Homo sapiens: one gene and its partner. The protein of the gene in region 1 interacts with the protein of each later gene in a biochemical or structural test. Each region holds a gene or a part of one and is shown on either strand. Other genes may lie near its edges.

Region 1 (8,072 bases):
TGGAAATAATGTTACCAAAAAAAAAAAAAAAACAACTCACTTCAATATACGTTGTCAATAAACAGTATTCCCAAAGAAAACCAAGGATTTCTGAGAAGCTTTACAAATTATTCTTTGAGCATCTTTAAGCACCCTAACCCTAACCCTTTGAGGAAATCCAGTTTTGATGTCATGTTACATTAAATGCTAGGACTCCTGATTGCTTATACTGAAATATATAATATCTTAAGTAGAATATACTTTTTTTTTTTTTTGAATCAGTCTCACTGTGTCACCCAGGTTGGAGTGCACTGGTGCAATCACGGCTCACTGCAACCTCTGTCTCCCGGGTTCAAGCGATTCTTGTGCCTCAGCCTTCCAAGTAGCTAGGAATACGGATGTGCACCACCATGCCCACCTATTTTTTTTGTATCTTTAGTAGAGACAAGGTTTTGCCATGTTGGCCAGGCTAGTCTCCAACTCCTGACCTCAAGTGATCTGCCGGCCTTGGCCTCCCAAAGTGCTGGGATTATAGGCATGAGCCACTGCACCCAGCAAGATATACTTTTAATTAAAACTTAAAACTTTCATTTCTGTATTTCTTCTTAAATGGCAAATTTATGAGATATGAACTAAAAGGTCACATTTAGAAGTCACAGTTACAAAATGAGGACAGCATCTATTAACATTAACTTTGACACATTTCGGACTCCGATCTCTAAAGTCCTCAATGTTCACACTGAACATGATCTTAAACTTGCATCTAGAAAAGTGTGGGCAGACAATACCACACTAATGCTGGCCCGGCAGTTTCCAAATTCAATGGAGAGGCATTCAGCATTCTCCTATTATCACCCTGTTTAGAAAGGAGAAAACTATTCAAAAAGGGTAAATGTAGAACCTAATATGTTTTTCCCAAAGCACCAGCTTCTTCTCAATCATAACCTATCGTGAATGCATAATGTATACAATGCCTCTCCTTGTTGAATTTAATTTCTCTTTTTCAATTCCTCTGGGCTCTTTTTCTATGAAATTTGAATCTGATGCTGCTCATGGAACCAAGGCCTGCACTGCTATCATATGCTGGCAAAGCCCAATCAGGCAGAAGGATCTTTTCTTTTCACCTCTCCTCATCTCTTTCTTCCTCCTCCTCTCATATGTACATATACAAAAGAAATAAAACATAAGATTAGATGATTGTTTCTCTTTAGTTTGACTAAGGGAAATACACCAACAAATTTTAAATAAGATGGAGAAAAAAGGTAGAAAAAACACCCACATACTACTGGTTAAGTGAGGTCCATGAGACAGGAAACCAAGGAAATTAAATTGTCTATCCCTAAAAATTATATAGCAATAATCTTATCTCTTTCTGCTAGCTCCCAATCTGATAAGTTATAGACACATAGGACTTTTAATATGCATTGAATACTTTAATTAGCCTGTGTGTAAATTTTGCTTAAAATTTTGAAAACACAAATCTTATTGTTAATATAGCTAAGCAGAAATAAATTAAAGCAGAAGAAACTGTTCAGAAAGATAAATAACTTAATGATGTTTAACTTGACAGGAATGGACCACTGAAGGAAGTTGACAAAAGTGAGAGATAAAGCTCATCTTTTCTAGCTGGTAAGAGCAGGTTAGGCATTCCTGACCATCTTCCTCCCTGCACCTGGTAGGACAAAATTTCTCTGCAGGACTGACTTAAAACTTAAAGAGTGGTAAAGGGGGAATTCAGGGGTCTGCTTAGAAAGAAAAAAATTCTTCCAAGGACCTTAAGACAAACATGCACTCCTACAATTGGAATTAAAACAGAGTTTAAAAAGCAATTGGTGGTGAGCACAGCACATTGATTAGAACTAATTATTTTAAAATAAAGTAACTGACAAAACAAATCCTTTCATGTAAGTAATTGAGATGGTGAGTAAAGGGAACTTACTAGAAGTGAAGTAAGCACAGGGTTAGTCTTGGTAATGTTGGTAACTGTGCAGGAATAACATGTACCAGTGAAATGTGCAGTCATTTTGGCTATGGTACCTGGTACTTAGTAGATACTGAATATATATTTGCTGAGTGAATGGATTAACATAAAAATTACAAACATATGTAGGTCTACACATTCTTATTCTCTACAGTATGTTACATTTTTGTTCTCTATATCATAAATACTGGCCAGTGGACTTTGCAAAAAACAAACATTTATTAATAGGGGATTATTATTGTATTAATGTTAATCTTTCTTTTAAAGAATAAAAGGAATATAGTGAAAGGTACATACTGAAAAACGTTTGTTGATGTTTATGATTTAGGTTCCATTTGGTTAGTATTCTTTTAGGAAAAAATTTCTGCCATTCTGAAAACAGTGCTATCATTTAAAAGATAACAGTAGCAAACTGTGGCTATAACATATGAAACATCTAGAATTTAGATAAAGCACAAAATGTCCATTGATCTCTTGCATATTTCAAAATATGCCAATATATTTAAGTTCTTATATATTCTTAATTTTAGCCCAGTAAAGTTGTTTTTTAAATATATCCATTTTCCCCTTTCCTTCCCTATGTTGCACATCTCCTTGCGATGTGGTATATGACTCAAAAATAGTATATGAAGACAAGTAATAAAGACAAGAGAAGTTATAGAGGAGAAAAACTATGAGATGTTAAAAATAAATCTCATACATTAAATTTACCTGAGTATATAGACTCTATTTACATGAGTGTATGAACAGGTTTATTATACTTTTGCCTGCAGCATTAGGTATTTTGCATTTATACCCATGACCTGTATCAAGCCCAGGTAAACATTAAATCATGTCATTTGGAAACCAACTTTTAGAAAGGACCACATTCTCTTTTCATTTTACTGAACTGCAGTTTTTAAAGGTATACATTTTATCCATTTAAACTCACCATAATATCTAGTTTCCCTTGCCCTCTTCACCCTTTATTTATAATTTGTGTCATTTTATTGATATTATTAGTTTATGCATCAGTCTCTCCAACCAGTTTGCAACTTCTTCAAAGAATAGGTTTTTAATGCATCTTGTAGCCCTGGGTGTCCTGAATCTAGGACCTCTGAGTATACTTTAATCTCCAGACTACTTAACAATACTGAACACAATGTCAATGCTATGTAGATAGTTGTTAAACTGTATTATTTACGGAAAAATGACAAGGAAAAAAAGTCTGTATGTGTTCAGTATAGATGCAACTTTTTCTTGAATTATTTTCAATCTGAGGTTGTTTGAATCCATGGATGCAGAACCCTCAGATACGGAGGGCTGACTGTACTGCTTTTATTTTTGAGATGGGATCTTGCTCTGTCACCCAGGCTGGAGTACTGTGGTATGACCATGGCTCACTGCAGTCTCAACCTCCTGGGCTCAAGATTTCCTCCCACTTTAGCCTTCTGAGTAGCTAGGACCACAATCATGCACCACCACACATGGCTAATTTTTTGTAGAGATGAATTCTCCCTAGGTTTCCCAGGCTGGTCTCAAAATCCTGGTCTCAAGTGATCTGCCTCAGCCTATCAAAGTGCTAGGAACCACTGCACCCGGCCTCAACTGTACTTCTTAAATGCAGTAAAGTTTGCTCTTATGCTTTTCTTCTCTAAGTACATTTTTGTCAGTTTCCATTCATTTTGAGGTGCTTTTGTAAGACTCAGGGTAATTTTCCCCTTCATCTTTAACTTCATGGATCTGTGCCTCTTGCAGAAAAAGCATACCCTTTGAGGGTAATTAAACACCAAGTAATATCTTAAAAAACATAAAAAACTCCTCACAGTTTATTCATTACCTATTACTACAGAAAGAAGAAATATTGGGATTGAAATAAATACCAATATATCAATATGTAAATGCCTTTTTCATCATAAACATCAAAACTTGAATAATTGATGTGAGCAACCCCATTAGAGGACATTTTTAAATTGCCTGGTAAAAGAAAAAATAATTGTCCAGTAATTGGTAACATCTGTTAGAAAATAAAGGATTAAATTTGTATCAAAAAGCCAAAAAAGGTCACTTAGCAATGTGAGCTACTGAAAGCTTATTAAAACAGTTTACTACTTTAACAATGTTTTTAAAGTAATGAGAAAATTCTCATGATATTTGTTTCTTATACTTTTAAAAAGTAAACAGAAAATGAAATCATATCTTTTATTCTCAATAATGTTACGTTTTAAACATAATCCAAATCTTAGAAATTTATTCTTAGATTTAGCAATGAGACTCTAAGTAATTATCTGGCAAATAGCATTAGCACAAAGGCTCAAGCCTCTTACCATCAAATCCATCTTCTTCTGACCCTAGTTCATCATCTGAGCAGATGTTGAGGACATTTACCAGCATCTCAGTCACTAAAGAGAGAAAGCAAAGAAAGAAAAGTCAGGGTTTTCTGTTATAACCTTAACTATTACTCTGGCATTGTTAATGAGCAAACTTAGCAATAACATTTCTTATTTAGTTTGTATATAGAAGCAGTTTCAGTAAACATCCAGATCATAAAAGACAGCCTTTGTGATTCTATGCAGACTTTATGAAACTATTAGCTGATGCTTATGATATCTAATGGTAACATTTACTAGCTCTAGGTCAATAGACAATGACAAATCAAATATGTGGATGTGAATATACTACAAATCAATGAAAGAGAAAATAGTTTTTTTGAATTTTTATTAGTCACACAATGATAAGGCTTAATCTAGATCAGATTACAAACTTCTGTTCAGTAGGGACTAAGAATGATGATTTTTCTTATATTTTTAATCACCTAGAGAACTTCACGCCATTATAGGCATGTGGTTTTGTGTTTAATACAAACTGTTGATTGATAAACTAATATATTTGAAGTATTTTTCAGAATACTAATTTTAAAAATGTATTGACAGAAATATCATTAAATTTGATTTTCAAAAATGCTTAAAAAATTAAACAGTTGCAGTTTAATCAGAAATTTACTTAATAGATTACAATAGGATTACATAAAAGTGTTGTACAGAGGAAATTAGTACTGCATTATTTTTATACTATAAACCATGCTATTTACATTTAATATTTTTTGAAATTAGATTGGATTCTACCATGCATGTGAAAAGAAGCCTGTCTACTGCTTCTTTGAGAGCTACTTTTTAAAGTAATATGCTATTTAAAAAAATGTCCTTCTAGAATTGAAGATGAATGATAGAGAGTCAAACTTCAATAGAGCCAACACTGATCCAGAGTTTCAGTTTAATTATCAAAACTGGATTTTGTGTACCAATAGATTAATATGTTAATTTCTAATAAATGTCCCAAATTTTAATAATTAATAGAAACAACCCAAATAAAGGATGTTCAAAAGGTGCCCCATAGTTGTCAGCATCCACACTGCTTCTGTTTCCAGCGAAGCCAACAGATGACACTACTCCAATTTGATCAGTGCAAGAAAGTTGCAATATGGAGTAGTATTGGGAATATTTATCAGAGATTATTAAAAATTTACTTTTGATTATTTTGATATTCAAAGGGAAGGCTTCTTTGCCAACAACTCATAACTTGACTGGTTTAATCATTTTAGGGCATTTAAAGGGAAAACAACCATTAGGGTTTCAGAAAAATATTTAGCTTTTCTCTGATACTCCTCATAGAACATCATTACTCTGATACTTATAGGAACATTTATTTTTCTTACAATGCCCATTCACCTTCTCATGGAAAGTATGAGAAGATACATGAGAATCAATCCGTGTATCACTGTTAGGCCTCCTGAATGAAAAACAATTGGTGCAGACATTTCCCCAAAATTTTTGTTGGGGTTTAAGTCAACATATGAAAGCAAAACAAAGGAGGAAAGAAGGAAGGTAGGAAGAAAGTTAACAAATAACTTTCTAAAATGTAAATTTGTCTCCTGTTCTGTACCTTATAATGCGCTAATGCCTACATTATTGATGAACTACTTTGCTGTTGTACATGTTGTTCTTCAAAATATTGTAGCCATTAAGCACTATCGTACAATAATTTATTAACATCAGAAATGTAAGGAGAGCATGGCTATCCTAATCTTTTAATTTGGCAGATAATTTGTAAAATTAAATAGTCCTTTGGGATTATAGTACAAATGGGTAAGGAAAAAGGGTAGACATTACTTGAAACCAGGTAAACCTGTATTTCCATTATTTTTTAAAGCGTTATATTATTCTAATAAGATTGTAAAAATTTCCTAAATATTCCTGTGTTTTGTTTTTTTTTTTGCTTCCCCCTCATTCACCAATTGTGTCCTGTTAATAGGATACAGAGTGACACACTGCCACTTCCAAATCACATCTTTCATTGTACAACTTGTGAATTTTATTGGCTGGGCCAAAGTTCTTCTCTTTCTGAGTGTTTAATCTCCTTTCCTTCCTTCCTAAACTATTTTAAGAAGAACATCTCAGGATTCCACAACATACCTTTTTCCCCAACAAATGGAAGGGACCAAGTAAAAACATCCATGAAATTTGGAAGCCAGTATGGATGAGGAGAACAGTTGAATTGCCTGATATTCATAACATTGTTCTCATACTTCAATACTGCAGCTAAAAATAACCAAAAGAGGATGTTAGGAACACAGAACATATTTCTGCTTCTATGTATGGCTTTAGCTCATCAAGAAAATTCAACCATTTGACTGAAGTTCCAAAACATCCAGGCTCACACCTTAGGCATCCCAGAATGCTTATACAACTTATGGACTTAAACCTTACTCAGGGTAATATATAACTGCACAATATATGAATAATTAATATGTAATTGTGTAACAAATTGGAAAATATTTACACAAAATAGTTAATCCAATGTCTGTCAGGAACTGATTCAAGCTCCCCTTTCAGCCAAGAATACTTTGGTCTTAAAATTTGATATCTGATGACACTAATAAAAGTGGCACAGCTAAGTTTGACATAATAATCTCCTCAAATATTTGAATGAATTTATTTTTAAAAAGTAAAACTTCAATAGAACTCCCAACAGTTGTACAAAATAGTTTAAGTTAGATTGCTTTAATTTTTACTTTATTTTTTAAATTAATATAATAATTGTACATAATTATGGGGTGCATAGTGATGTTTTGACACATATAATGCACAGTAATCAGATCAGGGTAATTAGCTATACATTAAATACCATATCAAACATTTATCATTTAGTTGTATTTGGAACATTCAATATTCTCCTTCCAGCTATTTGAAATTATAATCTATTATCGTTAACTATAGTTACCCTATAGTAGACTGCTTTCTTGACTTAATAAAATAAAATGTTTGGATTGAATCCCACATAAAATAATGTGCTTCTATCTGACTCTATCCTTGATTTCTGAAAAAGATGTCCATCCATGACTCAGGAAGACAAATCTGCATGCTTCATGTCTCTGTGAGTACTTTCAATAAAGGAAAAGTCACCTGTTTTAATGAGGTCACCTATTCTATGGATAGACAATTTGAAGTTGCAGGAAATTCTCAGGTTGCATTTAAACCTGCCTTTACCAGTCACTGATCATGGTTTTGCTATGCATTTCATATTTAATATTTAATGTCATTCTGCTTCTGAATGACAGCCTTTTAAATATTAAATATGATACTCAAGCATACCTTCTTAGGCTTTGGCAAGATTTCATTTTTATTATCTATTCAGGGCATAATTTGTATTACATTAGAAGACAGTAACCAACAGATTTTATATGATATCATATGATCTTTTCTTGCTTATGTTATGGGGTTGAAAATACAGAAAAAGTAATCATTTCTTTACTTTTTTGTTTTTACTCAGAATGGATGCTCAGGAGCTGGAGACACATCTTGGTATCTGCCTTACAATCTTTTTCAAGCAAATTATTTTTATCCCCTTTCGCCCTCTTTAATATGACATGGCTTCTTGATGCTTTAGCTCAGCCTGCTCAACCTATTCTGAATGCATGCCAGATTGGCAATGTCTCTGTTAAAATGTGGCCCAGAAGTAATATAATCATCTAGGTTGGTTTGAACAGTGCAGAGTATGGGGAGAATATATCATTTTCTGTGGTGTGGATACTATATATATCATATTGTAGCCTAACAATATGTTGATGTTTTTA
Region 2 (8,072 bases), on another chromosome or scaffold:
TTTCTACTATGCCCAAGTTTAGGGAATAATAATCACTGAAGCTTGGGCATGGTTTACACAGTAGTGAAGATTCTAAGTTATCCCTGAAGCCCTGGGTCAGACAGGCCTTCCTAGTGGGTAGCAAAGGCGTGGAGCACACCGTTCTCCTGGGGACCCTGGGCAGGCACCGCTGTCCTCCACCTTATCTTCAGCTGACATGGGCCCCTCAGGTGGTCTGTCTGTCTGCTGCGGAGAAGCCCTCATGTTCAGCCACAGAGCCTGCTGCTAGCAGCTGAGGAATGTCCCTATGCAGTATCCCTTAGCCTCTCTCTGTGTGTTGGCTACAGTAGTGACAGTACTAGGAGATGGTGGGAATGTCCTGTTAGGCCACTGGCTAGTCTCCATTCATAAAGGTAATACACAGATGACCCCAAGTCCAGCCAGCCCATGTCTGAGTGCACGCTGGTTCTAAATTCCTTGGCCATACACAGTGCAACCATGGCAAGTTGTAACTCCATGCTCTGAATGCCAAAGTGTAGGAACCCTGTCACATCCACAGCCTCTGTTCTACGGCTGTCCCCATGGCAGGGGCTAGGCAGGGTGAGGGCTCCAGTGACACAGCATACTTCCAGGTGAAGGTGCACAAGAGTGCACAGGAGGGTCTCCCGGCAGAGCCCGGAGCAGGTGCTCAGCGAGGGGGTGGGAGTCGCATGTGGTTGCTGGGCTTGCAGGCTGCCCTCACACGGCCCTGGATGCCGCTTGGCCACTGGCACATGGAGCAGTTTACTGTCGGGGGAGGTAACAGAGAAGCGGCCGCACCTCCAGATGCCTGCCTGGCTGCCACTTCCAAACTGGGCCTGACTTGATCCTGGGCACTGAAGAGGCCCCAACAGTCTACGGAATCGTTTTGGAAGCTCTGCACGTCCTGGCAAGCCAGATGAGTTGCACGAGAAAGGCCCTGGTGGCCAGAGCGTTCAGCAAATCTGTGTGTGGCGCTGCTCACCTGGGGCTCCCTGCTGCTGGCAAATCCCAGAAGGTCCGTGGGGATGGGAGCAGGAGCCACTCCAAGGTGGGGTGTGGGGATGGCATCGCCCGCTTGGCTCTGTTGAGGTCTGTGTGTTTTCCGATTTGGTCTTTTTGGTTATTCTTTTTGGTGAGCGGAGGGAGGGTATTACCTTTTACCATATCAGTAAACTGTAACTAATATGCATCTTGTCTCTAAGAATATACAGAAAGGGACAGAATCATTGCAGACAGTGTCATGCAGGGTTGCCTTGCATTACAGACGCACGTAGGAGGCTCTGAGGGCTGGCAGTGAGGATGGCCCGGTGTTCTCCAGACTAGATTTGGTGCCTCCGTCCCTGGCAGGATCCTTTGTGACCACTGGGATCCCAGTCTGTGGGGCTCCCAGGATGGGGCCATGGGGGCTTGTGCCCTCCTCCTTCCCAGAGCAGAACACTTTGAAATCGAGAAGTTCCTCAAGGTAAATGTACCTGCGTGAAGCCAGAGGACTTCGTTTCACGTGCAGAGAAGCTGCAGAAGGCCCAGGAAGATGCCAGGGATGAGTGATCTTCTGAGAAGGTGCCCAGCAGAGGGGCCACAGCACAGCCACTGACAGACCCAGCCCAGAGGGCTGCCACCTGCTTCCTTAAAGGGCCACAAGGCTGTCCCTCAGGACAGCGAGGGTGATGGCCACAGGAGGTGAGGGGCGACTGTGACCTTCCTGAGCACTGCCATGAGCAGGGGCTCTGCCGAGCCTCTCAGTCATCTCATTCCTGAACAAGAAAAACCACTCGCACCCCGCCTGCTCCCTTACACCGTTTCCTAAAGATGCTTTACTGCCTGAAGTGTCAGGTGCCTCTTAAAGGGCACCCCAGGAGAGAGGGGCAGGGAAAGGACCTTGAGTCCTCCCTGAGGCTCCTCCATGCTAACCGGGTGTTTTCTGTGTGCTGTGGGGTTGGTATTTCAAATCTGAAAACAAGATTTGAAAACACGGTCTGCTTCTATGTGCAGAGCCCTCAGAGTGTGGCTCAGAGTCGAGGGGTCCTGTGGTCACAGGGCAGGCGGGGAGCGTCAGTGTGCCTGGCGGGCTTGCGGCATAAAAATAACCCGCGCAGCTTATCGACAAGTTATTATTACCCCGTGTGGCCGGGGCCTTCTGGCCCCATGTGCTTCTCTGTGCTTTCCTGTTAGCTGCCCTTAGCCCAGTGGAAGCCAAGCTGTCGGGGTATCGATCAAGCCGGCTCTCAGAAAGGTTTTCCTCCCCAAAGCGGTTTCAGCTTTTCGCCTGCAGCTATTTTTAGAGGCTTGGGCTCCGCAGATGGGGCCTCTCTCCAATGATCCTGTGTGGCGGGGCTGGGGAGGAGCCCAGGCCAGGACCCCACAGGGAAGCTGTCTGGGTGGGGGACAGGCTTCTCCTTCCGCCAGTGGGTAACACCAGGCTTTGCTCTCAGTGCCCAGCTGGGATGAGCCCTGGAGGCTGCTCCGGCTGGGATGTTTTCTAGATATTTTTGGCCTATTTTCTGGGTAACAAGGAGTAAATTCTGAAAATGGAGGTCTCACATCCCACCGTCAGCAAACCAGGCCTCTGAGTTAAGCCCTGATCCCTTTGAAAATGCAAATTCCCGCTGGGTCACTACCACCCGTGTGTGTCTCGGGGGCTCCCTTGACCAGGCAGAGCTGGATGCAAACTCTCAAATGGAAGAAAAGGCTGAGAACGTGGTGCCGGCCCAGCAAAGTCAAACACCCCAGAGCTCACTGGCCCAGGGCCAGCCACATCCACTCATTCCCAGGGTGACTCACAAGATCCTTCCCACCCAGGACCATGGCTCTCTCGACAGCCCTGACAGTGACGCCAGGGTAAGGATTCACTCCTGCAACCACAGGGGCAGGACACGTGGGAGGAATCCGCGAGGACCTACCTCAAAGTGGATGGCCCCGTTCCCGTCCGCATCAAAGGCGTTGAAGAGGAAGTGTGCATAGGTGGTGGCATCTGGGGAGGGCAAGGAAGAGGCTGGGGTGTGTCGGGGCTGCCTGGCGGCTCATCTCCCACCCCAGGCAACCCCAGCTGAGGGTGCTAACTGCGTCCTGGCTTGGAGTCCCTGTTTCCCACGGGACAGGGGCAGCACCAAGCCTCCAGGATGCAAGGGGCAGCAGGAGGGTCCCCTCCCTCCACACTGGGACACAGCAGGGCTGCCCTGCCTCAGACTCACCTCCCTGAGGGAAGAACTGCGCGTAAATGAGTTTGAAGGTGTCTTCGTCCACCAGGCCCGTGGGACACTCCTGCAGCAGGAAGGCACCCCCTCAGCCCTCGGCCACCCCCAGCTCCAAGCCCGACTCTGCATGGTGCCTGGCTGGCCTCTCTCCACCCCCTTGGGGGCTGCCTGCTGCCTGTGGCACTGCTGGGGCCCCCTGGCCTGGGTTGTGGAAAGCCTGGGTAGAGGTGGGGTGAGAGGGAGGAGGGGTGAATAGGAAGGGGGTGACTGCTCCCCCATACCCTCCTCCTCTGTACCAGCAGCAAAGACACGGAGGGAGGAGCATGGCGGCCTCAGCGATGCCCATTCCGGAGCCTGCCCCCGCCACACAGCTTTCCCACAACACATAAGCCCCTTAAAGGCCCCTGGGATATTTACTGTGGCATGGAGAAGTTTCCAGGTCTCCCTGAGCCAGGGTCTCCAAGGCCTCTCCCGGGGGAATGGGGAACACTCACATTCTTAAAGCCCCTGTAGAGAGACTGCAGCTCCTTCTTGGTGAACTTGGTCTGGGCCTGCAGCTGGTCCAGCCCCTCTGGCTGGTGGCGCACCGTGGACAGCTCCAGCTCACTGTCGCTGCTATCTGGAGTGGGACACAGACCAGAGAGTGTAAGGCCTGTAGCCCTGCTCCTCCATCTTGCTCCAGTGTGGCCAGGGCATGGGCCAAAATAGCAGGTGGAGGAACTCTCTTTGCATGACTACCATGGACAGCCACACAGGCTGTGCACTGCACAGAGGGGGTGTGACTGAGTGGCCCACACAAGAGCTGTGCCTCTGCTTTCCTGCCCCCCACAGGGCGGGCCTCCCCATCGCAGCCCCTGCAGTGTGCCCCCCTGTCAGCCGCACAGTGGGACAAGGTGGGAGCTGCTCTTGTCCTAAAGAGGCACTGAACAAGGGGATATAGGAGGGGGAAAGACAGCAAGACAGGCATGAGGGACACTTGAACTTCAGTATCCAATTCCTAGACCACTTCCTCCATGTGGCCCTCCCTGACTTTCCCCAGGAATGGAGAGGGTGCCTCCCTTGGCCCTCAAGGCCTAAGGCGATGCTGTTCAGCTACAGTTGGCAGAGGGGTGTTATTCACATCTGGTTAGGAGGCTAAACCTCCAGGGCTGTGGGGGCAGGGATCAGACCTGTCCTTTAAAAACAATACACAAACTTGGCAGGGTGCGGTGACTCACACCTGTAATCCCAGCACTTTGGGAGGCTGAGGCAGATCACGAGGTCAGGAGATCGAGACCATCCTGGCTAACACGGTGAAACCCCGTCTCTAATAAAAATACAAAAAATTAGCCAGGCATGGTGGCGGGCGCCTGTAGTCCCAGCTACTCGGGAGGCTGAGGCAGGAGAATGGTGTGAACCGGGGAGGCGGAGCTTGCAGTGAGCCGCGATCGCGCCACTGAACTCCAGCCTGGGTGACAGAGCAAGACTGCATCTCAAAAAAAAAAAAAAAAAAAAAAAAAACCACAAACTTGTTAACTAACCATGGCTACATTTGAGGGGGAGGTGCAATTTCAGGTGATTTTTACTTTTTTATTTATGATTTTAAAAAACATTTTCCTAATTTCTTTTGGTGTGACATGCATCACTTTTACAATGCAAAATAAAGCTAGGGCTGAAACAGCACTGAGTGCCCACACCTTGCTGAGCAGCATCCTCGCATAATTACAGAGCGCCACCTTCCCACAGACCCAGGACTCATGGGCCCCGCTGCACCGTCGCCCTGTCTCCCCTGGGCCACACAGAATGGTGGTGATCCATAATCACCCTCATGGCTGGTACTCTGGTGCTGGCTGCTGCCTCTCCCACTGCACAGTGAGCTCTTCAGGGGCAGCTGTCCTGCACAGCTCATCCTGTGCCCGTGGTGCCTGGCATGGTGCTGGGCACTGGTCCTGTGCTGAGCTTGCTCCATACCCAGGCCTCTCCCGAGAGCGTGGTGGGAAAGACAGCCTGCACTGCCCACTCACACTAACCACAAGAGCACCCTGAAAGCTGCTCAGCAATTGGGCTGTTTCTTTGGTCCACACATGCTCCCCATCTCCAAGATAACTATTTCATACCATCCTTCCCCTTAAGTTTCCAGTATCTCCTCTCCCATCCTTACCCTCAGGTTGCTTCCCACTTCACTGAGAAGACACAAGCCATGGAGGAAAACTTCCCCAAGCCCTCACCCCACACCTACCCACCTGCCTGCACCTGGCCCAGACGTCTGCACGCCTGCCTGCTCCATGGCTGAACTGTGCCTGCTCCCAGCAAAGGCAAACCTGCCACTTGTGCAGTGGGTCCCGATCCCTCTCACCTACTCAGGCAAGCGGTGCCAGCCAAGTCTCCCACTCTTTCCTCATCACCTTTTCCCCTCTTCTGGATCATTCCCATCACCATATAGACATACTGTAGTATCTCGAATCCTTAGTCATATTAAGTATAGGCAAACCCTGTAAACCAGCATCCCACGCCAGGCAAGCATCCCACATAGACTCTTCCCCTGCCCAGGGGCCTGCACAAGGATGCTCACAGCAACAGCATTTTTGGCAGGAGAGTTGGAGGCAACTCAGGGGTTTATGGCAGGCAGGATGGGTAGGCAAAATATGGAGGCTGCACACTGGGGAGAACTGTGCCGTGGAGCAGATGTACACACAGCAGCGTGGATGGATGGATGGATGGATGGATGGTAAGAATCCTTTGATTAAGAGGCAGACTTTTCAGACTGGAAAAGCAAGATCCAATTATATCCTGTTTACAAGAGGGATACTCCTAATACAAAGATATATTAAGGCTGGGTGCTGTGGCTCACTCCTGTAACCCCAACACTTTGGGAGGCTGAGGTGGGTGGATCACCTGAGGTCAGGCGCTCAAGACCAGCCTGGCCAACATGGTGAAACCCCATCTCTACTAAAAATACAAAAATGAGCCGGGTGCAGTGGCGGGCACCTGTAATCCCAGCTACTCAGGAGGCTGAGGCAGGAGAATCGCTTCAATCCAGGAGGCGAAGGTTGCAGTGAGCCAAGATCGCGCCATTACACTCCAGCCTGGGTGACAGAGTGAGACTCCATCTCAAAAAAAAAAAAAAAAGATTTAAAATAAAAGAATGGAAAAACATTAAGAAAGCTGGATGTTTTATAATGATACAAGGATTAATTCATCAAGAAGGCAGAATAATCTAAAACAGACATCACCTAGTAACAGAGCTTTAAAATACCTAAAACAAAAAATTCAGAACTAAAGAGAGAAACAAAAAAGTCACAATCATAATTGGAAGATTTTAGCACCCCTTTCCAGTAAATGGTATGACAAGTGACGAAATAAAAGGTTTGAAAAACACCATCAACCAATTTGACCTAATTAATATTTATAGAACACTGTATAATTGTAGATACACATTCTTTTCAAGAGCATATCCTGAGGTTACCAATATATATCAGATGCTGGAACACAGACTCTTACCACAATGGTACTAAGTTAAAATTCAGGACAAGATATTTAGAAAATCTCAAGTATTTGGAAATAAACAATACATTTCTAATTAGCTCATAGGTCAGAGAATAAACTGCAAGGTGATCACATTTTGAGATATTTTGAATTGAATGATTAAAAAAACAGAGCATATCAAAATTTGCTGGATGCAGGTAAAGCTGGGCTGACAGGGAAATTTATTGCTTTCAATTCCTTTATTAGAAAAGAAGATAGGTGTAAAAGCAATGACATAAGCTTCTAGATCTAAGAGTCAGAATCTAAAAAATGCAGAGCAAATTAAATTCAAAGTAAATAGAAGAAAGAACATAATAAAAACAAGAGTAGAAATCAATGACAGGCTGGGTGCAGTGGCTCACGCCTATAATCCCAGCACTTTGGGAGGCCGAGGCAGGTGGATCACTTGAGGTCAGGAGTTCAAGACCAGCCTGGCCAACATGGCGAAACCCTGTCTCTACTAAAAATACAAAAAAAAAAAAGTTAGCCAGGTGTGGTGGTGCACACCTGTAATCCTAGCTACTCAGGAGGCTGGGGCATGAGAATCGCTTGAGCCCAGGAGGTTGGAGATTGCAGTGAGCAGAGATCACACCACTGCACTCCAGCCTGTTGACAGAGCAAAACTTCGTCTCAAAAAAAAAGAAAAAAAAATCAATGACAAATATAAGCATAGCCACAAACCTTATAATAAAGTCATTAAGAAACTCAAGTCACAGGCTGGAAAAACATATCTCCAGTATATGTATCTGACAAAGGACTCATTTCCAGAATACATAATTAACTTCTACAAATCAGCATAAGACTAATAACTCGATTTTGTAAACAGGCAAAAGACAAGGACGTGTCACAAAAAAAGATATACAACTGGCCAATAAGCACAGGAAAAGGTACTTGAAAGGACATGTGAGAATTCATGCAGTGATGGGAAAACTGGAGTACTGGCTCAGCCAGAGTGGAGATACCTCCCTAAGCATCTCAGGTGTTGGCTGAAACCCCAGAAAAGCTATGCTTTAGGACTGTGAACCACATCCTTGAGTAAGCGCATGCTCTAGACCCAATGACAAAGTCAAAACAAACCTACTCTGACAAAGCCTAAAATAAAGTCTGTGAAGATCACATGAGTTGGCCAATAATTTAACTACATGCCAAACCAAAATTTGTTAGCATTTATATTAAAACAATATAATCCATTGCCTACACTATCCCTTTCACAATGTCCAACATACAATAAAAAATAAAAAGACATGAGAAGAAGCAAGAAAATGTGACCATAATAAAGAGATGAAGGATAAGCAGAATTATTAGACTTTTGTTAGAATTATTAGAAAAGAACTTTAAAACAACTATTATCAACACTTTGAAAGAAATAAAGAA

The links.
Region 2: of the proteins of PPP3CA (region 1) and KCNIP3, one has a biochemical effect on the other in vitro, tested with the Homo sapiens proteins (one study listed by BioGRID).

The regions. Positions count from the first base shown.
Region 1 is NC_000004.12:101,056,821-101,064,892, forward strand, and holds part of PPP3CA (protein phosphatase 3 catalytic subunit alpha), read right to left. Parts: intron 6,538-8,072; coding exon 6,412-6,537; intron 4,342-6,411; coding exon 4,267-4,341; intron 1-4,266. UniProt on the Homo sapiens protein: Calcium-dependent, calmodulin-stimulated protein phosphatase which plays an essential role in the transduction of intracellular Ca(2+)-mediated signals. Many of the substrates contain a PxIxIT motif and/or a LxVP motif.
Region 2 is NC_000002.12:95,370,037-95,378,108, reverse strand, and holds part of KCNIP3 (calsenilin), read right to left. Parts: intron 3,814-8,072; coding exon 3,689-3,813; intron 3,262-3,688; coding exon 3,192-3,261; intron 2,972-3,191; coding exon 2,901-2,971; intron 1-2,900. UniProt on the Homo sapiens protein: Calcium-dependent transcriptional repressor that binds to the DRE element of genes including PDYN and FOS. Affinity for DNA is reduced upon binding to calcium and enhanced by binding to magnesium. Seems to be involved in nociception.